Homo sapiens: one gene and its partners. The protein of the gene in region 2 interacts with the protein of the main gene of each other region in a pairwise test. Each region holds a gene or a part of one and is shown on either strand. Other genes may lie near its edges. The genes, in order: BRME1, HOMER1, NUP54 and RASAL3.

The links.
Region 1: the proteins of HOMER1 (region 2) and BRME1 interact in binary tests that used the Homo sapiens proteins (3 or more experiments, as listed by UniProt).
Region 3: the proteins of HOMER1 (region 2) and NUP54 interact in binary tests that used the Homo sapiens proteins (3 or more experiments, as listed by UniProt).
Region 4: the proteins of HOMER1 (region 2) and RASAL3 interact in binary tests that used the Homo sapiens proteins (3 or more experiments, as listed by UniProt).

Annotation. Positions count from the first base shown.
Region 1 is NC_000019.10:13,903,084-13,910,511, reverse strand, and holds the start of BRME1 (break repair meiotic recombinase recruitment factor 1), read left to right. Parts: upstream 1-4,394; 5' UTR 4,395-4,401; coding exon of another isoform or gene 4,402-4,797; intron 4,798-5,598; coding exon of another isoform or gene 5,599-5,619; coding exon 5,620-5,650; intron 5,651-7,428. Other genes in the region: CC2D1A (coiled-coil and C2 domain-containing protein 1A), read right to left, coding at 554-689, 4,011-4,070. UniProt on the Homo sapiens protein: Meiotic recombination factor component of recombination bridges involved in meiotic double-strand break repair.
Region 2 is NC_000005.10:79,399,128-79,406,162, reverse strand, and holds part of HOMER1 (homer protein homolog 1), read left to right. Parts: intron 1-4,107; coding exon 4,108-4,264; intron 4,265-7,035. UniProt on the Homo sapiens protein: Postsynaptic density scaffolding protein. Binds and cross-links cytoplasmic regions of GRM1, GRM5, ITPR1, DNM3, RYR1, RYR2, SHANK1 and SHANK3.
Region 3 is NC_000004.12:76,138,383-76,145,417, forward strand, and holds part of NUP54 (nucleoporin p54), read right to left. Parts: intron 6,092-7,035; coding exon 6,008-6,091; intron 5,911-6,007; coding exon 5,767-5,910; intron 1-5,766. UniProt on the Homo sapiens protein: Component of the nuclear pore complex, a complex required for the trafficking across the nuclear membrane.
Region 4 is NC_000019.10:15,451,090-15,454,545, forward strand, and holds the end of RASAL3 (RAS protein activator like-3), read right to left. Parts: coding exon 3,272-3,456; intron 3,179-3,271; coding exon 3,060-3,178; intron 2,409-3,059; coding exon 2,018-2,408; intron 1,727-2,017; coding exon 1,569-1,726; intron 1,162-1,568; coding exon of another isoform or gene 1,056-1,161; exon of another isoform or gene 1,020-1,055; coding exon 956-1,019; intron 850-955; coding exon 706-849; 3' UTR 535-705; downstream 1-534. UniProt on the Homo sapiens protein: Functions as a Ras GTPase-activating protein. Plays an important role in the expansion and functions of natural killer T (NKT) cells in the liver by negatively regulating RAS activity and the down-stream ERK signaling pathway.

The DNA of each region.
Region 1 (7,428 bases), on a different chromosome or scaffold from region 2:
CATGATGTGACTCATCAAGTCACATAACCAGTAAGTGGCAGAGCTCGGATTCCAACTCTCAGTCTCGGTCCAGACTTGATCTTTTTTTTTTTTTTTTTTTTTTTGAGACGGAGTCTTGCTCTGTCGCCCAGGCTGTAGCGCAGTGGTGCGATCTCGGCTCACTGCAAGCTCCGCCTCCCTGGTTCACGCCATTCTTCTGCCTCAGCCTCCTGAGTAGCTGGGACTACAGGCGCCCGCCACCACGCCCGGCTAATTTTTTTTTTTTTTTTGTATTTTTAGTAGAGACAGAGTTTCACCGTGTTAGCCGGGATGGTCTCAATCTCCTGACCTCATGATCTGCCTGCCTCGGCCTCCCAAAGTGCTGGGATTACAGGCGTGAGCCACCGTGCCCGGCCTCAGAGTCGATCTTGACTCTCTTACCCAGATCATTGGCTCCAGGAGAACAGGGGTCTTCTCTGTCTTCTTTCCCCTACCTACCCAGTGCCCCCAGTTCTGCGCCCGAACCACTTGCAGGAGATCAGAAAATGTTCTGAGGGTGTGTTAACCATCTCACCTTTGCCTTTGAGCTTCTCCAGGGCTGGGGGCTGGCCCCCGACCAAAGCCAAGAACTCAGCCTCCAGTTCTTCATCGTTAGCCCCGTCCTCAGGGATCATCAGGCCATCTGGGGAGAGGTCAACCAGCAGGCCCAGCTAGGGGAACAGCAAGGGTTCAGTCAGACCTTTGGTTCACCACATGGCTAGAGGCAGCCATGATGGCCAGAGAGTCCCCTTGGGAGGAAGGAAACAAGGTCTCCCAGGGAAAGCCATTTCCCTGGGGAGTGCCAGGAGGCTGGAACAAGCCCAGAACAGGTGTTCCAAGATAGGCCAGGCCCTCTGGCACAGTTCAACCTGGGGCAAAGGGCAAGAGACCCAGCTCTCTGATCTGAATCCACACTTATGATGTGCTGCTGGGCCAAGTTCAGTGGGAAAAGCAGGCCCCTGGCTGGGCGCAGTGGCTCACGCCTGTCATCCCAGCACTTTGGGAGGCCAAGGCAAGAGGATGGCTTGTGTCTGGGAGTTCCAGACCAGCCTGGGCAATACAGTGAGACCCCCAACTCTACAAAAAAAAAAAAAGTTTTTTGTTTTTTGTTTTTTTTTGACACAGAGTCTCGCTCTGTCACCCAGGCTGGAGTGCAGTGGTGCAGTCTCAGCTCACTGCAACCTCCGCCTCCGGGGTTCATGCCATTCTCCTGCCTCAACATCCCGAGTAGCTGGGACTACAGGCGCCCGCCACCACGCCCGGCTAATTTTTTTTTTGTATTTTTAGCAGAGACGGGGTTTCACCTTGTTAGCCAGGATGGTCTCGATCTCCTGACCTCATGATCTGCCCGCCTCGGCCTCCCAAAGTGCTGGGATTACAGGAAAAAAAACTTTTTAAAATTAGCTGGGAGTTGTGCTGTGTGCCTGTGGTCCCAGCTACTCGGGAGGCTGAGGCAGGAGGATCACTTGAGCCTGGGGAGATCAAGGCTGCAGTGAGCCATGACTGTGCTACGGCACTCCGCCTGGGCAACAGAGTAAAGCCCTGTTGAAAGGAAAGAAAGAAAGAGAGATGGAGCCGGGGAGGGAGAGAGGGAGGGAGGAAGGAGGGAAGGAAGGAAAAAAAGAAGGAAGCGAGGGAGGGAGGGAAGGAGGGAAGGAAGCAGGCTCCACACTTTGCCCAAAGCAAAGCTACTCTGTACACTTGGGCTTTTCTTTCCAGCATCCTCAGCAGAGGGGCTGTGTGGGAAGGTTGGGCTTCAAGAGCATGATGGCTGCATGCGGTGGCTCACGCCTGTAATCCAGGAGTTCGAGACCAGCCTAGCCAACATGGTGAAACCCCGTCTCTACTAAAAATACAAAAATTAGCTGGGAGTGCTGGCGGTGTCTGCAATCCCAGCTACTCGGGAGGCTGAGGCAGGAGAATTGCTTGAACCTGGGAGGTGGAGGTTGCAGTGAGCTGAGATTGCGCCACCAAACTCCAGCCTGGGCAACAGAGCAAGACTCTGTCTCCAAAAAAAAAAGAAGAGCAATTAGAAGCCCTGACGACAGGGCCAGGTGCAGTGGCTCACGCTTGTAATCCCAGCACTTTGGGAGACCAAGGTGGGGGGATCACCTGAGGTCAGCAGTTCGAGACTAGCCTGGCCAACATGGTGAAATCCCATCACTACTAAAAATACAAAAATTAGGCCGGGCACGGTGGCTCACGCCTGTAACCCCAGCACTTTGGGAGGCCGAGGCAGGCGGGTCACCTGAGATGGGGAGTTCGAGACAGACCAGCCTGACCAACAGGGAGAAACCCCGTCTCTACTAAAAAATACAAAATTAACCAGGCATGGTGGCGCATGCCTGTAATCCCAGCTACTCGGGAGGCTGAGGCAGGAGAATCGCTTGAACCCGGGAAGCGGAGGTTGCAGTGGGCCGAGATTGCGCCACTGCACTCCAGCCTGGGGCGAGAGAGCAAGACTCTGTCTCAAAAACAAACAAACAAAAAAAGAACCCCTAACCACAATGCAGGTTTGCCATGCAGACCCGTCTTCCTATCTTGGCTAATGACCAATCATGATGTGATAACATCGTGTTTAACCATATGAAATTGCCTTTCCTGTAGGTAAAAAATGGCCAAATATTGGCAATTATGTATGGTTCCACCAACTAGTAATAATGATAATAGTAACATTTATTGAGTGCTATGTTCTAGCACTTTCCATAAACTATCTCAATGACTCTCTACAACTGTCCTGTAATGTAGGGTCTCTTGGAGGTCTCCATTTTTAATTTTTTATTTATTTATTTATTTTCAGAAGGAATTTATTTATTTATTTTGAGAAGGAGCCTTGCTCTGTCACCCAGTCTGGAATGCAGTGGCGCGATCTCAGCTCACTGCAACCTCCGCCTCTCGGTTCAAGCGATTCTCCCACCTCAGCCTCCCGAGTAGCTGGGATTACAGGTGCCCGCCACCATGCCCAGCTAATTTTTGTATTTTTAGTAGAGATGGGGTTTCGCCATGGCCTCCCAAAGTGCTGGGATTACAGGTGTGAGACACCACCCCGGACTTCCATTTTTAATTTTTTATCTTTATTTTAGAGAAAGAGTCTTGTTCTGTCACCCAGGCTGGAGCAGAAGTAGCGCAATCATAGCTCACTGCGGTCTTGAACTCCTGGGCTCAAGCAATCCTCCCTTCTTAGCCTCCCAAGTAGTAGTACTACAGGCACATGCCACCATGCCCAGTTAGTCTTTTTTTGTCGAGACGGGGGTCTTGCTTTTGCCCAGGCTGGTCTCAAACTCTGGCCTCAAATGACTCTCCCACCTCTGCCTCCGCCTCCATCTCCTGAAGTGCTGGGATTATAGAGATCTCCATTTTACAGATGAGAAAGCTGAGGCTCAGAGCTGTAAAGTCAAGTGTCCGATGTACAGAGGCCAGGAGGGAACTTCAGGTCAGCCAGACTCTAATATCTGAACACCAAGCTATGTCCTGGGCTCCTTCCATCAAAACTGAGAAAAATCAAACTATCTGGTGCCTGGGGCAAAGAAGTCGGGAGAGTGAGAAGGGGTCCAGCCACAGTGCCATAAGCTTATGGCTGCAGCCCTGGATTTGTGCTTAGCCCTGGCCAAGCTGTTAATCCCTATGACCTTGGGCAGATGTCTTCACGTCTCTGAGTCTCAAAGTCCTCATCTGTACAATGGAATAAAAAGAGTCTGACATGGCCCGACTGATGCAAGGGTTTGATGTGTCAAGTCCGAGGACTGCCCCTCCTCGACTGGAGCAGCTGTGGCAACAGGTGGCCCCGAACCCGGGGCAGGGCCCCAGGAGCTGGGGAGCCAAGGCCAGTAGGCCACACTTGGGTGGTGTTGGAGCCTCACCTGGGGGGAGGCGGGGACCGGGGCTTACCTGTGGGGCGGAGATCGGGCTTCCCTGGGGGGTGGGGCCCTTCCCTGAGCGAGTGACGGGGGTGGGGAGGGATCCCCAGGTCGGGCCGTGGGGCGCAAACTCACCTGGCGGGCGGCCGCGGCGCCTCTGCCCGGGGGTCCCGGGGGTCCTTTCCTCTTGTGCATCTTCAAGGCTGGATGCCCGGACCACCTGCCCCCAAGCCCGGCCTTGCCCTGCCTCCTTCCCCGGGCTCTGTCGCCGCGCACTCGCCCTTCCTGAGTCCTGCACTCCTCGTCGGCGCCCCGCGGCCGTCGATCCCGAGCCCTCGCTTCCCTGCTTGGCCGTCCCACTTCCGCCTCGGGCCTCGGGCGCCGCCGCACCGGAGCGCGGCCACTGGGCTCGCCGGGTCTGCCGAGCCGAAACTACAACTCCCGGCAGGTAGTGCGTGGGCGCGCAGGCGCCTGGCTGGGGCGGTGCTGACTGTCGCGGGCTGCGAGGGCGGTGTTTGCGTCGCTCATGCGCGGGGCGGGACCTCGCGGGGCGCGGGAAAGAGGCAGAGCGCGCGCAGGTGTGAGGGGCGGCGACATCTGTGGGGTTCAGAGCGTCTGTCAGTCACCGACGGGCTCCGGCTTCACGTGGGCTCTCGGCCTGTGGAGTCCTCACTTCTCGGTGGTCGGCGTAGTGTCAGTGTGGGGCTTGTCACCGGGAGCGGGGTCTACAGCGCCCACCCTCAGGCCTTTCCATCTTTCACCTCCGGACTCGAGGCCTCCAGCGTTCTGTGAGGGCCAATTTGGCCATTTATTTTTTCCAAAAAGAGTAACGCGGATAATTCAAGCGACTTATTCCCAACTGATCCAGGCAGAGCTCGTTTCTGATAAGGACAGAGGGTCCTCAACGACTTCTGTGGCCCAGGTCCGTTCTGGTTTGCCTCGCCCCCAAGGCTGGGAGAAACCGGCCTATGGCAGCTCTTTCCCCTCCAAGGACCCAGCTGTCCCCTTTAAAGTGGCACGATCTTGGCTCATTGCAACCTCTGCCTCCTGGCCTTGTACCACAGCCTCCTGAGTAGCTGGGATTACGGGTGTGTGCCACCGCACCTGACTAATTTTTTTTTTTTTTTTTGAGACGGAGTCTCGCTCTGTCGCCCAGGCTGGAGTGCAGTAGAGCGATCTCGGCTCACTGCAACCTCTGCCTCATGGGTTCAAGGAATTCTACTGTCTCAGCCTCCCAAGTAGCTGGGATTACAGGTGTGCGTCACGATGCCCAGGCTAATTTTTGTGTTTTTAATAGAGAGGGGGTTTCACCATATTGGCCAGGCTGGTCTCCAGAGGCCCCTGGAGAGTCCTCAAGTGTCCTTGGAAGGGCCCCCAGATACCCCAGTCTGGAGGGAGGGGCTTCACACAGGCTGTTTCATCCTAGGGACCAGAGTCTGGGTCCCCGGGGCTATCTATAAGGACCCCCCAGGGCCCATTTGTCTTTCAGGTCCTGGGCATAAGATCTTCAGTTTGGAGGAGGTTTGAATTCCTACCTGGCCATGGCCCAAAGTGGCTGTGACTCTGTGTCCCATCCTGTGTCCCAGTGGGAGCCATCTGACCCCTGGGGCAGCCAAATGGGCTGAGGTGGAGGTAGGGGTAACCTCTGCTCTCAGCCAAAGCCACTGGATATAAACAGAGACAGAGACTGCTTATAATGATGAGAGATTTTGCTTGTTTTCAGATTTCTCAAGGGGAAGATAAAATGACTAAGAGGAAGAAGCTGCGGACCTCAGGTACGTTCATTCAAATGGACACTTGTTGATTTCTGCTTCTGCTTGTGGGAAGAATGTGGGCTTGTTTATTGCAGATCTGGCTAACACGACTGCCTTAACCTCCTTAAAAGGAAGCAAGGATTGGCCGGGTGCGGTGGCTCACACCTGTAATCTCAGCACTTTGGGAGGCCGAGGCGGGCAGATCACAAGGTCAGGAGTTCAAGACCAGCCTGACCAACATGGTGAAACCCCGTCTCTACTAAAAATACAAAAATTAGCCAGGTGTTGTGGCACATGCCTGTAGTCCCACCTACTCGGGAGACTGAGGCAGGAGAATCGTTTGAACCTGGGAGTCCGATGTTGCAGTGAGCCAAGATGGTGCCACTGCACTCTAGCCTGGGCAACAGAGCAAGACTCTGTCTCAAAAAAAAGAAAAAGACAAAAAGGATTTAATTCATGCTGGTAAGAAAAATAGAAGGCCGGTGTGGTGGCTCACGCCTGTAATCCTAGCACTTTGGGAGGCCGAGGTGGGCGGATCGCTTGAGTCCAGGAGTTCAAGACCAGCCTGGGCAACATAGCGAGATCCTGTCTCTACAATGTAAAGTAAGGAAATTAGCTGGGCGTGGTGGCAGGCACCTGTAGTCCCAGCTACTCAGGAGGTTGAGGCAGGAAGATTGCTTGAACTGGGAGGTGGAGGTTGCAGTGAATCCAGATCGTACCACTGCACTCCATCCTGACTGATAGATTGAGGCCCTGTCTCAAAAAAAAAAAGAAAGAAAGAAAAATAGAAATAACGGAGAGGGCATACAGGAAAAGTAAAAGTGAAAGTTTTCTGGAGCTTCTGCAAGCCTCTGGTGGGGTCCCACAGCTTAGAGGAGGCCTCCCCGGGCTTCAGGGCAGCGGGACAGCCTCCCTGCGGAACCAGTCCCAGAGATGACCCCTGGAATAATGCTTGATGTACTACAAGGCCACTCGGTATGTGGCTGAGTGTTTTACTCTGGGGCCCAAAACCTGGGTTCATCCCAGTTCTGCTCAGTGTGTGGTGGTGGATGATTTCCTCTGTGCCACAGTTTCCCCTTTTGTAAATTGGGGATAATAAAAGCCACTACCCTTTCCTTTAGAGCAGTGTTTCTCAACTAGGTGAGAGGAAGGGATTTTGACCTCCAGAGACAGCTGGCAATGTTTGGAGACTTTATTTTTTTTTTTTTTGGAGACCAAGTCTGACTCTGTCGTCCAGGCTGGAGTGCAGTAGCAAGATCTTGGCTCACTGCAGCCTCCACCTCCTGGGTTCAAGCGATTCTGCAGCCTCAGCCTCCTAAGTAGCTGGGACTACAGATGTGCACCACCACGCCCGCCTAATTTTTGTATTTTTAGTAGGGATAGGGTTTCACAATGTTGGCCAGGCTGGTCTCAAACTCCTGACCTCAGGTGATCTGCCTGCCTCAGCCTCCCAAAGTGCTGGGATTACAGGTGGGAGCCACCGTGCCCGGCCTAGAGACTTTTTTTGGTTTTCATAACTGGGGAAATTATACTGACATCTAGTGGGTGGAGGCCAGGGATGCTGCTCAAATATCCTACCATGCATAGGATGCCCCCCAGCCACAGAGAATGATCCAGCCCCAAATGTCCTCCAAGGTGAAGAATCCTGCCCTTAGAGCTCACATGTGGATTAGTATCTGTAAAGCACCCAGAACTGACCTAAGGTAGTACACAAATGTACACTGCTGTTAACAATTCTTCTTCCAGACTTTTAAGAAAACTTTTATTTTGAAGTAATCTGGGACTTAAAGAAAAGTTGC
Region 2 (7,035 bases):
TTTCAACAGTCAAGCGTTTTAAAATAATTGATGTGGTGTTATAACTACCTAGACTACTCATATAAAAAGTACTTCTGCCAATCGGTATTAACTTGTAAATTACGCCAAAACAAGGCAACTAGTTCAGGAATACCAACCTTTTCTTAAACAGGTTTGTTGTAGATTCTCCATGTTCCAGGTCTACAGTGTTTTATAGATGAAATCCCTGTTACCGTATATGCATGCCTGATAAGTTTAAAATGGGAGTCAAGAAACTCCATATGATTCTACTACCCAAAACTAGTGTGAAATTCCATCCCTGATGTGAGAGCTAAAATATTTATATTTGAGGTTTTTATTAGTGTTGAAAGTTTTATTAAAATTAGTGTTATAAAATTTACTACTCATTAATTGATTTGATCTGAGGTTAGCCTTGCACTTATTTCATAGTGAATACCTTTACTTTTCATTTAGTGCATTGACTAAGCTTGCACAGATTGGCAAGCACCAGGTTTTGCTGGTAAGTGAAAGGATGGGTGTAATAACTGGAAAATACTTGTTGGAGAAAACTTGAATCAATGAAAGGAAAAAATGCAATCTGATAGATTCTGAATATAGAAAAAATTGGACAAAAATTCATAGAAAAAAATGAGAATCTGATTGAGAAGAAGAGCTCATCACAGAAAAGCCAGCTTGATTAGAACAGGAAATATAATCCATGTACTTCAATTCAGGAAGATGGGGCAAATTGATAGGTTACATAATGTGGGTTTAAAAAATTATGTTTATTAGTTTGCTTGAGTTGTCCTAAAAAATGCTGTAGACTGCATGGCTTAAACTATAGAAATCTATTTTCTCATAGTTCTGGAGGCTAGAAGTCTGAGATCAAGGCGTCTGCAGGGTCATTTCTTCCGAGGCCTCTCTCCTCGTCTTGTAGATGGCTGTCGTCTCTTTTTATGTTCGTGTGTCTGTGTCCTAATCCCCTCCTCTTGTAAGGACACCATTTATACTGGATTATGGCCCACCCTAATGACCACATTAAACCTTAATTACCTCTTTAAAGACTCTGTCTCCAAATACAGTCATACTGTGAGATCCTGGGAGTTAGAACTTCAATATATGAGTTTTGGAGGGACACAGTTCAGCCTCACGCACAGAATCGAAGAGGCAATCAGGACCGGGCACGATGGCTCATGCCTGTAATCCCAGCACTTTGGAAGGCCGAGGCGGGTGGATCACCTGAGGTCAGGAGTTAGCGACCAGCCTGGCCAACATGGTGAAACCCTATCTCTACTAAAAATATTAAAAAAAAAAAAAAATAGCTGGGCGTGGTGGTGGGCACCTCCCAGCTACTTGGGAGGCTGAGGCAGGAGAATCGCTTGAACCTGGAAGGCGGAGGTTGCATGAGCTGAGATTGTGCCATTGCACTCCAGCCTGGGCAACAAGAGCGAAACTCCATCTCAAAGAAAGAAAGAAAGAAAGAAAAGGCAGAATGTCAAGATCCTCTTGAACAGTACTGTTCAGTAGAACTTTTTGTCATGATGAAATGTTCTGTTATCTTTGCTGTCCAGGGTAGTAGCCACCAGTCATGTGTGGCTGTTGAGTGCATGAAATGTGTCTCAAATTCAAAGCTGAATTTTTTACTTTAATTTTGAAGTATTACATTTAAATAGCCACATGCTAATATTTGGATAATACAGATCTTGACTGATCTATTTATTTGACATATAAAGAACTGAGAACCAAAGTGCTTGAGTGTTGGGTCCGAGGTTACCCAGATAATTACTGAATACTTGTGATGTAAGCAGTTATAAAATGCTTGATGGATTTTACTGTCTAGTGACTATAAAATAAAACCCACATAAATATAATAGAAAAACACCCTCATTTTAAAATTATTTCTCCTGCTATAAATATGTGGTAATCCATTTTACTTTATAATTGTGTGATTTTGACAAATGGATTTTAGGAGTAAATAATTGTTGTTTCTTCCAGTTAATTTTTAAAGGTGTTTGCTATTGACATGTAACAAGTGTTTAAATTAGTTCACTAAGATGTCAATCGTCAGATTGAAGTTTCCATTTAAATAAAACGCATCTCTATAGGGGAAAAACTGGTAGGTGGTTTAAAGAAAAATCTATAATTCAGTTAGAGCAGGTGAATCCATGCATGCTTTTTTCAGAAGACATGAATCTGAAAAATCATTTCACAAAGGAAGAATAAGAAAAGAGCTTTCCTTTTCAGGATAGAAATGGATTGTTAAGTTAATAGCTTAGCTTGTTGCTTGATTCTATCCTTTCATGTTTTGATGATATTTTCTCACTTAGTAAACTTTAGGAATATTTTTAACTTTTCATTTTAAACTAATTTTAGACTTATAGAAAAATCACAAAAACTGTACAGAGTGCCCGTATACACTTCACACAGCTTCCCTTAATGTTAACATCTTGTGTAACCATAATACAATGATCAAATCCAGGGCAGTAGCATTGATACAATACTACTAACTAACCCTCAGTTTTCACCAATGTTCCCTTTCTGTTCTAGGAACCTACCTAAGATCCCACCTTGCATTTAACTGTTATTTCCTGTTTCCTTCATTTTCTTCACATGTTTGAAGAGTTTCAGTTATTTTACAGATTGTCCCTCAGTTTGGGTTTATATGATATTTTCTCATTGTTTGACTGAAGTTACGCATTTATTGCAAGAATACTACAGACACAATCTTGTGTCATTCTCTGTACATCATATCAGGGGGTTCGTGATGCTAATATGTCATATTTCTGGTGATAAACTTTAGAAATCTTGGTGATGAAAACTATGCTTTTTAAATAAAATATATGCTAAAATTACTATAAAATATCAACCCATCAAATTTACCCTAGAATACAAATGATTTATCAAACCCCCAAAAAATGGTGATTGAAGAAAGCTATAAGCCTCACTAGTTAGTTAATGGGATGAGGTTAGTAGAATTTAACTAATAGAAATAAACTTCAATAATGAGAAAGAGAAACAACCTTTTTCTTTCTAATGAGGCAATTCTTCATTGGAAAGTTAGGAAAGGAATTTTCAAGAGGAGTCTTTCCAACTAAAAGAATTGTCTTGTAGTAGAAAATTGTTTTAGTTGAGGTACTTAACTGTAGTAACTTATCAAGTAGAATATTAAATGAGGAAAAACGGTGATTGCTTTAGTCTTCTTCTATTTATGACACTGGAATTATATCAGAAGTCAAGTCTTTAGAACCAGTTTGTAGGCCTAGCCTTTCCTATGAAATCAGTTTATTGTAGCAAATGTTTGTATTTTTGACATTTTAAGGTCCTGAATAAGATGAAATAAATCAAAAACAATTTCAAAAGAAATACTACATTACATATCCCAAACCTTATGACATTTAAGCATCCTCATATGTTTTCATTAAGGAATAACATTGTACTTTAGGGTTTGACACACGTAAAAAATGTAATACATTGTTAGGTTTTTTTAATAGATGTTTTTCAGGCTATAATGTTTATTCCTTAAAAGAGAATGGGTGGAAACTCTTCTGTAGATAACTGTATCTGTCATAATGAAGGTTGGAAACATTCCACGTTAAGCCTGGTACTTGAGTACTTTTTATATTTCTTCACTTGCCAGGTTTTCTTTACTAGGAATATTTTGGTAAAGTATTTGTGTTTTTTAGTATTTTGAGGTTGTCTTTGAAAACATTCTTAGGGCTGGTCACAGTGGCTCACGCCTGTAATCCCAGTACTTTGGGAGGCTGAGGCAGGTGGATCACCTGAGGTCAGGAGTTCAAGACCAGCCTGGCCAACATGGGAAACCCCGTCTGTACTAAAAAAATACAAAAAAATTAACTGGGCATGGTGGCGTGTGCCTGTAGTCCCAGCTACTCAGGAGGCTGGGGCAGGAGAATCGCTTGAACCCAGGAGGCGGAGGTTGCAGTGAGCCAAGATTGCGCCACTACACTCCAGCCTGGGCAACAGAGCGAGACTCCATCTCAAAAAAAAAAAAAAAGAAAAGAAAACATTCTTAGACTATAAACCCTACAATAGAACTGAGTCTTGCTGTCCCTTCAAGGTAACAGTAGTTGGTGTAATGGATAGAATTTTCTTTTTGTTTTATTTTAGTTCAGCAATCAGCAAACATTGGGAGGCTGAACTGGCTACCCTCAAAGGAAATAATGCCAAACTCACTGCAGCCCTGCTGGAGTCCACTGCCAATGTGAAACAATGGAAACAGCAACTTGCTGCCTATCAAGAGGAAGCAGAACGTCTGCACAAGCGGGTAATTTCAGGGCTGATGTCTATAGGGATTTAGGGCTAACAGGTTTTCTTGATCAGAAGAAATTTGCATGTAGATTCAGCACAGGGATATCTTCTAGTTCTAGGATGTCAGAACATAGATATGGGTTGTATGATATGCATTTGTTTGATTAAGAAAAATATTTTCCATAGTTTAATGAGAATGAAGAATATACGCCTTTTGAAGTCAACAAACCATGTTGATTCCCCATATTATCCATGGGGACTAGCAGTAATGCACAAGTACATAAAAGCACTAATGTATTAGTGCTAGTTGATTAGTACTGACATGGTAGTTAAAGTGTGTGCTGAGAAAAAATTCAGGGAGTAGTTTAATTAGAATTTTAGCTTTGGGTGTTGACGGTGAAGCGGGAATGCTTTTCTCCTGAGTTGTCCTGGGGAGGGGATTCTCCATTTCTGGTTTACAAGACCAGAGTATTCCAGAGTGCGAATTCCAGTTCTGCCGGTTATTATCTGTATGATCTTTGATAAGTTATTTCCTTCTTCCAGCTCAGTATTCTCATCTGTAAAATAGGAATAATAAGTACTCTGTACAATTCCTGTGAAGATTAATTGAATACTTAATTGGCATGTAGTTGCACTGAGTCAAAAGTATGTATTCTGTACAATTCCTATGAAAATTTGTTGAGACACTTAAGTGCCGTGTAATTGCACTGTCTCAATGAGTTGCAGTGAGTCAATGAGCTGCTTTTATTATTTTCTTTTTAAAGAAGGAACAATTTGAAAAATACAAGTAGAAAATTATTAACTTTGGTAATATTAGAGATTTGGTGCAGAAAAAGAAAACCAGAAATTTCAATACCATTAATATCAGAAGCCCAGATAATTACTTGTAAAGTGTTTTAATGCTCTCAGGCCAAGAGTTTGAGATTAGCCCAGGCAACATGGCAAGACCCCATCTCCATTAAAAAAAAAAAAAAAAAAAATCTTTTTTCTTTTTTTTTTTTAATTAACCAAGCATGGGGACACACGCCTGTAGTCCTAGCTACTTGGAATGCTGAGTGGGAAGGATTGCTTGAGCCCAGGAATTGGAGGCTGCAGTGAATTATGATGGCTCTACTGCACTCTAGCTTGGGTGACAGAGCAAGACTCTGTCTCTAAAAAACAAAAAAAAAAAAGAAGAAGTTTTTTTTTTTTTAATTCAAGGCATAGAAGTGCTTCACCCAACAGATGCCTTTAATTTCTCCTTTTAAAAAAAATTCCAAGCTGGGCACATTGGCTCACACCTATAATCCCAGCACTTTGGGAGGCTAAGGAGGATGGATTGCTTGAGCCCAGGAGTTCAAGACCAGCCTGGGCAACATGGTGAAACCCCATCTCCACTAAAAATACAAAAATTAGATGGGTGTGATGGCATGTCCCTATAGTTCCAACTACTTAGGAGGCTGAGGTGGGAACATCACTTGAGCCCAGGAGGCAGAGGCTAAAGTGAGCTGAGATCACGCCACTGCATACTCCAGCTTGGGTAACAGAGCAAGGCCTTATCTCAGAAAAAAAAAAAAAAAGAAAGAAAAGGAAATGCAGTTGAGACAGAGTGGAAATGTTAGAAACTTGAGTAAATGTTATTCTATCCTGTGTGTAAAAATTAACTTAAGAGAGGTGGGGGAAAGGAGAGTTGTTTAATGGGTATAGACTTACAGTTTTGCAAGTTAAAAAAGTTCTGGAGATCTGTTTCACAGCAATGTGAATATAAATACTTAACACTATTGAACTATACACTTAAAATGACTAAGATGATAAATTTTATGATATATGTTTTTTACCACAAAAAAAAATTTATGACAATTGTCATAGCCAGAAAATATTAAGGAGCTATCATGTCTCCTTATTGTGTAATCTCTGCCCTTAAGAAATTTTCTCTTTAAATAGTCAATTGAATATTAAAGAACTTAAGAAACATAATATATTTATTTACTCACATATTTTCAGTTTCCATTGTGCTTCTTTCCTGTAGATCTGAATTTCTATCAGGTATTGTTTCCCTTCAGCCTGAATAACCTCCTTGAGCAGTTTTTGTACTCCAAGTGTACTGCCAACAAATTATCTCCACTTTTATTTAGATAAATTTTGTCTTGATTATAAGTTACATTTTACTGTTTTTTCAGAAAAATGACTAGTCATTTTTAATTTTGTATTGGACATTGCAAATGAGATGTTGTAGAGACCACAGATTTTGTTATTTTTGAATAATGTTGAGTTTTTGTTTCAACAGGCAGTTATTTGGAGATTATCTTGAATTTGTGGAGTTGTGTACTTATGCTTTGTTAGAATTCATGTATTTCAATTTTGCTGTAACCCTAGGGTAAATCACATTGTCCTAGGAAATCTTTATCTCTAAGACATAACCCTTTCCAAAGTTTCACTGCAAAGCTTGAGGTATTTACCAAGGCCCTCTAATTTAGCAGGGACTAGCAGAACTTCAAACTGTCATCTCTGTTGAGCACCATCGCAGTTTAGTTCTTTCAGCCTTCCAGCTCTTTTCCTACTCCTAGTTGTGCCAGGTGTTCTGCAGAGTCCTAAAATTCTCAGGCTTCTCAGAGAAATAAGACTATGGATTTCTGCTTGTTCAGTCAAGCAATGCAGCCAGACTGCAGAGTACCTTCAGGCAAAAAGATGTGGAAATCACCCAAAGTGACTGCTTTCTTGCAGTCTTTTGCCCAATTTGGTTACTCACCAGGTCCTTCAAACAGTTGACTTTTACATTTTGCCCACAATTTGCAATTGTTACCTATA
Region 3 (7,035 bases), on a different chromosome or scaffold from region 2:
CTCCTTGAAAGCCCTTCTCCCTTAAATTTCCTGACAACACAGTCTCTCTTGGTTTTTTATAAACACATTCATTCATTCATTCACCATTAATTCATACAACAAATATTTACTGAGTACCTACTAAGTGCTCAGAGCCAAATACTAAAGATACAGTGGTAAACAAGGTAGACAAGGTGCATTAAACAAACTGAACACATCAAACAAATATTAACAATTGTGATAAGTCCTTCAGAGAAGTACAGAGGTTCTGGGAGTACTAAATAAGGGAGCTGATCAAGCCTGAGAGAGGGGTCAAGAGAAGACAGTTCCATTAGCACTTCAGTTAGGGCCTAAAGGAAGGAGTCAGCTAAGCCATGGGGTAGAGGTAAAGGCCAACAGTATGTGTAACATCTCTGTAGAGACAGAGAGAGGAAGATGAGTGGACAAAAGCAATAAGGAGGACTAACAATGAGGTAGGAAAAAACTAGACTGGAGTGTCACAGAAGTTAAGGTCTCCCACTGGCCAAATGCAACAACTGAAACATATTTATTAAAGCCCATGCATTCAAAATGGTAATTTTATAAAGTAAAGATCAAATTTTTTTTAAATCCTAACTCCTTGGATACCATTAGAAATAATGAGACCGCCAACTCCTTTTTACAAAAATTGTCCATTAAAAAGAAAAAAAATTATCTTGCCTTTACTATACAAACTGTACATCAGGGTGATCAAGCAGTCTTGGAGGATGAAGAAAAAGTTCCTTTTACAGAAGAAATTTCAGTGTGATAGGGAGGAAATTAGAAAATCACCATTTTGCAACTCCTAATAAGATAACTGATTGAGGCAATGATCATCAAGGAATGAAACCATTAGGTTAAAGTAGTAAGATAAAGATACGCTGTCACCATCTGAACCTACTGATCAATCTTAGCATCACCAAAAGTGAGATAGCCTCTCAACGTGACGTGATATGAAGCACACAGCACCACTTGCAAAATGTTCTTACCAAAAAAGCAAACGTCAAGTCCCTAAAGCAAACTTTATTTACCACAATTATGAGAGATAAAGTTAAATAATATTACAAGGAAGCAGAAGAAAAATACAGAATGGGGGGCATTTAACAAGACAACTGGAAAATTCATGAGGGAAAAAACAGAATGGGGAATTCTCTACACTAAAAAGAACTTAAGGGACATGACAAGAAAATGAATGTGTGGTCCTTGTTTGGATCATGATTCAAACAAACCAAATAAGAAAACGCTTTTGAGACAAATAGGGAACTCTGGTTATAGATGGGGTATTAGATAGTACCAAGGAATTATTGTGGGTTGGAATGAGGTACACATTTTTAAAGAGAGAAGTATAGTAAAGTAAGCATGAAATGACACGCTTGGGATTTGCTCTCAAATACATCAGTGATTTAAAAAAAGGAAAAAGGAGATGGACAATAACAAGTTCTGACTTTTGATGACTCCAGCTGGTAGGGTTCACATCACTTCTTTTTTTCTTTGTTAGCATTTTTCATAAAGAACAGTAAGTGTTCACTGGATTTACTGAGATGATTAATGACCTTAACTTATTTGATAAAATAAAGAAAACAGAAACCAGATTGGCGAATAGTTTGTAAAGGGGAGGAGAGTGGTAGCTGAAGTGAAATGTGGGATTAAAGTAGTTTTGTTGTTGTTGTTATTACTGTTTCAAGAAAAAATAAACTTTGAGTTACTTAAATGTGGATGAGAAGGTGAAGACTGGGGAACGGAGTACAGCTAGAATAATCAACAGCACATGCGCCCTGAAAAGGCAGGAGGTTATAAGATCCTGAGTCAGGTAAAAAGAGGAAAAGGTGGATAGAGGGAGAAAAAAAATAGATTTGGTGGAGGGAAGTTGAAGGAATTGCAATAAGGGATTTTATTTTCTCTTTGGTTTTTTTTTTTTTTTTTTGAGACAGAGTCTTGCTCTGTCACCCAGGCTGGAGTCCAGTGGTGCGATCTCAGCTCACTGCAACCTCTGCCTATGGGGTTCAAGCAATTCTCATGTCTCAGCCTCCCGAGTAACTGGGACTACAGGTGTGCACTACCACGCCCATCTAATTTTTGTATTTTTAGTGGAGATGGGTTTCACCATGTTGGCCAGGCTGGTCTCTGACCTCAGGTGATCCGCCCACCTCAGCCTCCCAAAGTGCTGGGATTACAGATGTGAGCCACTGCGCTCAGCCCTTTTTTGTCTTGGAAGTAGCAGTCAAGGCCATCTGCTAAAAGTAAGAACAGATAAATTTGAGATTTGAAGAGAATAAAGGTTTAAAATTACTGCTATAGAAAGCAGGAGAATAAGTTGAAAGTAGAAATTTCACAGGATTACCAGGCAACATTGAGACCTGAGGTTGGTGATCAAGAATTTAGAGAGGTATTATCCCCTCTTCCATAATGTGTGATCTTTCTCAAGCAATATCTACACAGACAGTTGGGCTTACAAAGGCTTGGGGTTTTTTCAGGCAAATGTGACACAAAAACAAGGAAGTTTAGCATATTGGCAAGAGATATAGAAATGGAAGGCCATGGAATCTAAGCTAGTTAGAGTAGTGAAGACAGAAAGAGCTAACAGAGCAGAAAGTATCAGTTGTCGAAAGATCCAACAGTCTTCTGAAGGATCCTCGATAATCCATGCTTTGGCTTGGAAAGGACTTCTGGCGGTTGTCACAAAGTCAAATGTGACTTTTCCCCTTGATTCACAGGTATTGCCAACTGAGATAGGAATAGCTGTGATTAGTAAAAGGGAGCTAATAAGTATGAGGAATACATGGACGGGCATCTCTATACTGAGATAGGACAAGCAGTGGTCCTAACAATGCTGCTCGCTAATTTATGGTCAAAATCCTACTTGGCTTGGGGATAGGAGATGGCAGCATTTAAGTGTTAGTGTTTCTAAGAGTTTTGTTCTAGTACTCTCCTCTTACTCTGGAATCAGGTCTCCTAAATTACATCATCCATATCTACCACTTTAAATACTACTTACGTTCTGATGGCTTTCATAAATATATACAACTACCCAAGGGACACCTCAAACTCATTATCTACCCACAAACATCTGCTCTTGCTTTAGTATTCTGGATCTTAGTGAAGAGCAAGGGATCCTTCAGTTACGCCACCCAGAAGCCCAAGATACCTTTATCCAGTCATTCGCTTTTATTGATTCTACAAGTTAAATCTCTCTCAAATTCACATCCTGTTTTTTCTCTCCATTCTTAACTGTCACTGCCTTAATTCAGGTCTTCACTATATCTTGCTCAGATTTTGGCAACAGCTTCACCAGATCTCTGCCTCCATTCCAACCCACCTATAATCTATCTTTGTATTTCTCTAAGAGATACTTCTAAAAATCTGATTATTTTCCTGTCTACTTAATCCTACAACAGTTTAGAATTGCTTAAAGGACAGCTCCTTAGTAAAACATATAAGGCACGCTAATAATCCAATTCATATCTATCTCTCCAACTCTCACTACTGACCCTGAGGTCATTTATGCATTAAAAAAACTGCACTGATCTAGTTATACTGGTCCCAAAGGCATTATACTCTGCCATAAACCATGCCATGTTATTTCCTCTGCGTGGATACCCTAGAATCTCCTTGACTATGAGCAAGGATTGTGGTCTTCAACCTTGTACACCCAATGCCTGACATACGATATATACAATAAATGGATATTACATAACAAAATGAGCCCCTTTCAATTTTAAAATAGCACCAGATTCAAATTCCCATTTTCCTAAAAAAACCAAATGTAACTACAGTTACTCATAGTTGGAGAGACTTTATTTCAAGAAACAAAGGAAACACTTCACTTTTGCTGTTCTTTCCTTAACTACTTAAATATTTCATCAAATTTTGTATTTTTGCAGGATTGTAGAAAAGACGAATGACTGGAATACTTGAAAGAATAATTCTGAGAATACTATTCTATTATCTTCATCCTACTGTTAGGCAATCCTTGAAATTCATGTTTAATAAGTTAATAACTAATCTTCAGTGACTGAGTAGGATGAATTTTAGCTAGTCAATCAAGTTACTTAAAAAAATGAAACAGAAGTAATTTTAAGAGGCATCAGATTGGAAAAGTGAAAAGAGCACTAGAATGAGTAGTTGAATTTGCATCCCTGTACTTCTTCTAGAGAGGTATACAGGTAAGTCACAATCTCTCAGGTTCCTCTCTTCACCCATAAAATGGGGATAACAAAAGTATTATTTCACAGGGTTCTTGTGAGAATAAGTTAATCCATACAGAACAACCCCTGGAACCTACTGCCATACCACCTAGTAAGGATGGTTAGTAAGGAAGCCATCAAAGACTAATAACCAGACTGTCTCAAAGGGACTTGGGAGCCAACTTGAAAAGGCTTGCACTGGCCAAAGATGTAACAATTTAAGCATCAATAAGAATGGTAACTGCAATGGATTAAAAAATAGTAACTAGTTTAAAGGCTGCAGTTTCTGACATTAAAAAAAAATTGGTCATCTTTGGAGAATGCTAGATAACCAACTCTTTATTCTGAAAACCAGTAATAAAGAGAAAGAATCAACCAAACAGATGAAGTCAAGTTTCTCCTCACAGAAGTATTTCAACAAATAAATGAATCCAGGTGGAATGGCACTATTTGTAACCCCTAATGAATTAATGGATCTAGGTAATGATCACCAATGGCTCAATGGCTGATCACTCAAAAAAAAAAGATATTATATGTCTTCTGATAAAAAATAGGCCTATAAAATAGTCTTGCAAACAAACAACAAAACAACAAAATATATATATGTACGCCCCAGATCTAACCCAATCATCAAGAAATACAGAGAACAAAGGAATGTGTTAAACTATACCATAGGCGTGCAATCAGAAAAGTCTTGACTAAAAAACTCTATAGGATAAATGATCTGTTTTCTTCAACAAATTAAAAAATAAAAAAGAGAGGCCAGGCGCGGTGGCGCACACCTGTAATCCCAGCACTTTGGGAGGCCGAGGCAGGCAGATCACGAGGTCAGGAGTTCCAGACCAGCCTGGCCAATATGGTAAAACTCCGTCTCTACTAAAAATACAAAAATTAGCTGGGCGTGGTGGTGTGCGCCTGTAGTCCCAGCTACTCAGGAGGCTGAGGCAGAAGTATCGCTTGAACCTGGGAGGCGGAGGTTGCAGTGAGCCGAGGTCGTGCCACTGCACTCCAGCCTGGGCGACAGAGCAAGACTCCGTCTCAAAAAATAAAAAATAAATAAAAAAGAGAGATAAAAGAGGAGCCTATGGAGATTTAAGACAGGCAAAACCAAATACTGTTTACATACTTGAATGACAAAATATAAAGTAAGAAAATGATCACCATAAAAGCCAAGACTGCAGGTCCTCTGATGGGGAAGCAATTGGTAGGGAAATGTGGTAGGCTTCTGAACTGGCTGGCCAGGAACCATCTCCTGACATGGGCAGTGATTACAAGGGTGTTAACCTTTGTAAACTTATATATAATTCATTAAGCTGTACTTTTGTGCAGTTTCTCTATTTGTTATTTTTAACAACAAAAATTTAAATGGAATGATCCTAAACACAGGGACCTTATAATCCTAACTGTGCCAATCAGTGTTCTCCCCAGTTGCTATCATATTTAAACATGAAAAGTAACATTCCTAATCCTTTGGAATATATTAATAATTCTTATAAAAAGTCCACTAAAGTATTCTGAATGCACTCAATAATGTCAGCTAGTATCATCACGGTTTTGTATTTGAAGCTGAAAACCTCATACTTACTAGTTTGCTGCTGCTGCTGTGTATTAAATCCTCCAAATCCCAGTCCAGTTCCCAAACCAGTACCTAAACCAGTACTAGTTCCCGTTGTTGTGCCAAAACCAGTACCAAATCCAAAACCTTTGTTCTGAGTACCACCAAAGAGTCCTTTGAATGAAAAATTGGAACTTCGTAAGTTAAAAAAAAAAAAAAATCTGACCTCTACTTCATTTACTTCTATGAATGACTTAAGATGGCCTCTTACCAGTAGTGCCTGTGTTAGTTGGGGCAGAAAAGCTGAATGCAGAACCTGCAGTTGTAGATGTTGTCCCAAATCCTCCAAACCCACCTAATTAAAAAAGAACAAAAATAGAAAGGAAGAATCTTTTGTATATATAAAGGCAACTTCTTTTTAAAATTATTTTATAATTGCTACATATAAAATCAAAATATATTGATCTAATTTTTCCTTTCCCTACTTTCAAGATCAATTTTTTAAAAAACTATACTACCAATCAAGAAGTCAAAATGTTACAAGAAATGAACTAAGCATTTAAAATAGAAATATCACAATGTAATATATACCCTTCAATTAAAGGGGTGGTTAACAGTTACAGCTGAGAAAACACATTAAGCCTATTGCCATAATTCTAAAATGACTATGTATGTACTTTTAGAGGAGGTGTTGCAAATTCATATGCCTAGAAGATTTAGACTGATAACAGTAAAGAGTAAAGTAGACTATGTGTTTACTGATAGGTGGAACTGTTTAAAATGAATAGTTTTTTAGATCAGCAGTTCCTAAATTCCAGCAGATACAAGAAAGGTAGTTTAGCAGTGTCACATATTCCCATTTTTTACCCCAAGAGAAACAGGAAATCTGGATTTTCTATGTAAAATTTATTGGTTTTTGGCTGGGCGCGGTGGCTCATGCCTGTAATCCCAGCACTTTGGGAGGCCGAGGGGGGTGGATCACAAGGTCAGGAGATCGAGACCATCCTGGCTAACACGGTGAAACCCCGTGTCTACTAAAAATACAAAAAATTAGCCGGGCGTGGCGGCGGGCGCCTGTAGTCCCAGCTACTCAGGAGGCTGAGGCAGGAGAATGGCGTGGACCCGGGAGGTGGAGCTTGCAGTGAGCCAAGATCTTGCCACTGTACTCCAGCCCGGGCGACAGGGTGAGACTCCGTCTCAAAAAAAAAAAAAAAAAAAAAATTTATTGGTTTTTAAACCCTAATTCAACTACTTTTTTTTGCAAGGAATTCAAATGTTTTGAAAACAGCATGCCAAACA
Region 4 (3,456 bases), on a different chromosome or scaffold from region 2:
GTCAAACATCCAGCAAATGCTAACCTATCCGTCTGCCGTTTGCTCCACCCACTCTACCCCTCACCCATCCACTCACCCATGATTTGAATGACTCATTTACCCAATCATTCATACACAGTATCCAACCATCTCCACACCTGACCCCCTTCCTTTATCCGCCTCCCAGACCCATGGCCTCCGTGACATGAGGAGGGCCTAGGAAGATGCTCTCACTGTGGGATTGGGAGGTTGCCAGGGGTGGAATCCATGCTTCATTGAGAAGCAGGTGCTGCCTATAACAATGGTGAATACCTTTTATCGAATGCCTTTAACTATGGGTCCTCTCACTGTGTAGGGAACTTTACGTCCATTTCACAGATAAGAAAACGGGCTCTTAAGAGAATGAAGGTCTAAGGTCACACAGCTGGTGAGAACTTGTGTACATGGCCCTCTCCATGAGACTTCTAATTAGGGGAGAATTTGGGAGAGATGAATAGGGCTTGCGGGGCAAATGCCTAAGAATTGGCAATTCTTAGTGGGCAAAGAAACCACCAATTTCACTGAAATCAAGATTTTACTGGGCAACTTCATACTGCCAGAGTGGTTGGGACCAGCAGCTCCACTCCCCACTGTAGGCCAAGTAGGGCTAAGGCAAAGTCAGACACCCCCCCTAAGATGGCTATCTCTCTGCTCCCAGACCACGTGTGATGAGGCAGGATGGGCAGCTCAGGTGGTGTCTCCATTGAGGCAGGGTGCTTTGAGGGGCTGGGGTTGACTCCAAGACCCCCGCGTCCTTGGAGAAAGCTGCAGGCTCTGGACAGCATCCCTCAGCTGAGCCTGAGTTCTCTCCATCTCATTTAGGCGGTGCTCCTGGGGAGGCAGTGGTGATGGGGTTCAGAAACCAGGAGAGGGCTGCACCGCAACCCTTGCTCCTCCACCGCCCAGACCTGCCCCAGGGCTCAGATGGCAATCTCACCAGGTTTTTCAGACTGTGCCCTTCATTGCTTGTTAGGTTGTGCTCTGAATCAAACTCTGAGCTCCTGTGGGGGTCGGGGGATTGGGGCGAAGGGCAGAGGCTAAGGAAGTCCCTTCCAGCTCCTGGTGGGAGTGCCAGGGACTCCGGGGGCGGAGCTTGGAGTGGAGGCGGAGCTTGTCCAGACTGAGGGGCGGGGCCTAAATATGCTTGAAGAAGGGTCGGACCAGAGACGGGAATGGTTGGAATGACAGGACCTATCAATCATCCCTTGGAGGTGGGGTTTGGCCAGTCCTGGGTGGGGTCGTGACTGAGCTGGAGGGAGTGCCCAGGCTGAGATATCTCAGTGCCCGGCCCAGCCAGGTTGGGAGGGGCTGATGGAGGGGTGGGGCCTGGATGAGAGAATCTGCCAGGGTCCTAGGCCGACCTTCGTTGGGTGGGTCCACCTGGGGGCGGGGCTTGCCAAGAGGCAGGGCCTGGACAGACTTATTGGGGCGGGGCCAGGGTGGGGCTTGGCCGTGCTAGGCGTGGTTTGGGGGGGGGGGGGAGGGCCTGGTCAGATCTAATTGGATCGGGCCCACCTGGGGGCGGAGCTAATGGAGAGGGCTGGGCTCACCCAGCACGGAGCCTGGAGTCCAGATCCTGCAGCTGGCCCCGCAGCTGCTCCTGCTGCTCCGTCAAGGCCCGGATTTGGGTGCTCAGCGACTCCACGAGGCGGGACAGCACTTTCTGCTCCTCACGCAGAGCGGCCACCTCGCACTGCAGCTCTGCCAACTGTGGTGGGAGAGCAGCTGTAATCTGACCCGTTGTCCCGCCCCTGTGTCTCCCCGGAGACCCTGACCTCCCAGGCCCAAGCGCTCAGCGTCATCACCGGCCTGCCTAGTTGGGGAACATCCCTCCTGCGGTACAGCTGGGGAGACTGAAGCTCAGAGAGGGTCGGGCTAGGCCTGGGGTCACACAGCACAGCGAGCTGGGTACTTGAACCCAGACTTGCCTGGCCCTTCAGTCTTCCCCAGTCGCGTCCCTGTTCCCACTCCCCAGGCGCGGACCTGGGCCTGACCTTACCTTGTTCACAGGTCGGTGCGTGCCCAGTGCCTGGTTTCGGTCTTGCGGCTGGTCCATTTGGCGCTGCCAGGGTACCGACGGCTTCCGAGGCAGCGAGGCGGAGTCCCGGGTCCAAGGCCGGGCGCGGGGCGCTGGTCCCATGCTCAGGGAGCCTTTGGGTCGCGGCCAGGGCCCCGCAGATTGGCGGCGGCGGGCAGGACGCCGGACCGGGACACTCTGCGTGCGCTGCACCGGCCGGGGCCGCCGCAGGGGCCGCTCTTCGTCCGGCCGTGGCCGGGCCCAACTCTCTGAGCGGCGAACGCTGCGCAGAGACTGGCTCTTGGAGATGAGAGGGGTGTGCTTGGGGAGGTCCCGGGGGGCCAGGAAGCCGGGCTTCTCCCCTGCGGAGAGGCTAGGGGTGGGATGGAGGATCTTAGACCCTCCACTGGCCCCTGAGACGACCCCATCCCGACCTGACCAGAAGTGACCTCACCCCCCACGTGAACTTGTCCTTTCTTTTTTTTTTTTGAGACAAGGTCTTGCTCTGTCGCCCAGGCTGGAGTGCAGTGGCTAGATCATAGCTCACTGCAGCCTTGAATTCTGGAGCTCAAGCTATTCCCCAGCCTCAGCCTCCCAAATATCTAGGACTACCAGCACATGCCACTATACCCAGGTAATTTTTTTTTTTTTTGGTAGAGATGGGGTCTCCCTATGTTGCCCAGGCTTGTCTTAAGTTCCTGGCCTCAAGTGATCCTCCTGCCTCAGCCTCCCAAAGTGCTGGGATTACAGGCATGAGCCACTGAGCCTGGCTCCTGTCCTTGACTTCTGACTATAATACTGTCCTCTCTATGACCCTTGACATCTCTCCACCCTAACCTCTCCTCTCATCCCCGACCTCAAACACACTGTGACCTTTGACCCAACCCTTTCTATAACCTGTGATTCCCGTCTGACCCTGGGCTTGACCTCTGCTCACAATGATCCAACTTCACCTCTGACCCCTGTCTGAGCCCTGCTCCTTCCTGTTCCCACCCATCAGACCCCAGACCAGACTTGAGGTTACCTGGAGTGGACCTGGGCCGGGGGCAGTGGGAGACGCATTGGCACTGACACAAGCACAGGCTGGCCCTCCTCAATGGCTCGCAGGATGGTGGGCAGTGGTTCCAGGGTGTCTCGGGTTGTCTGGTGAGGCATGCAGGACAGAGACTGAGCAAAGTCTCCAGGGTCAGAGTCTCCCAAGCCTTCTTGCCTCCCTACTCTGGGTTCAGGCCATACCTGGTCAAGCTCAGCAAAAATTGTACAGAGCTGGGCATGCAGGACAGCTAACTGGAGGGCCAGATCACCACTGCCCTGGTAACCACTGGGGGCAGCATCCACATCCACCATGGCTACCTGGTCCAGGAAGCATTGCATGGCTGGTCCATGTTCCTCCAGGAAGCTATTCATGAAGCCCATGTAGG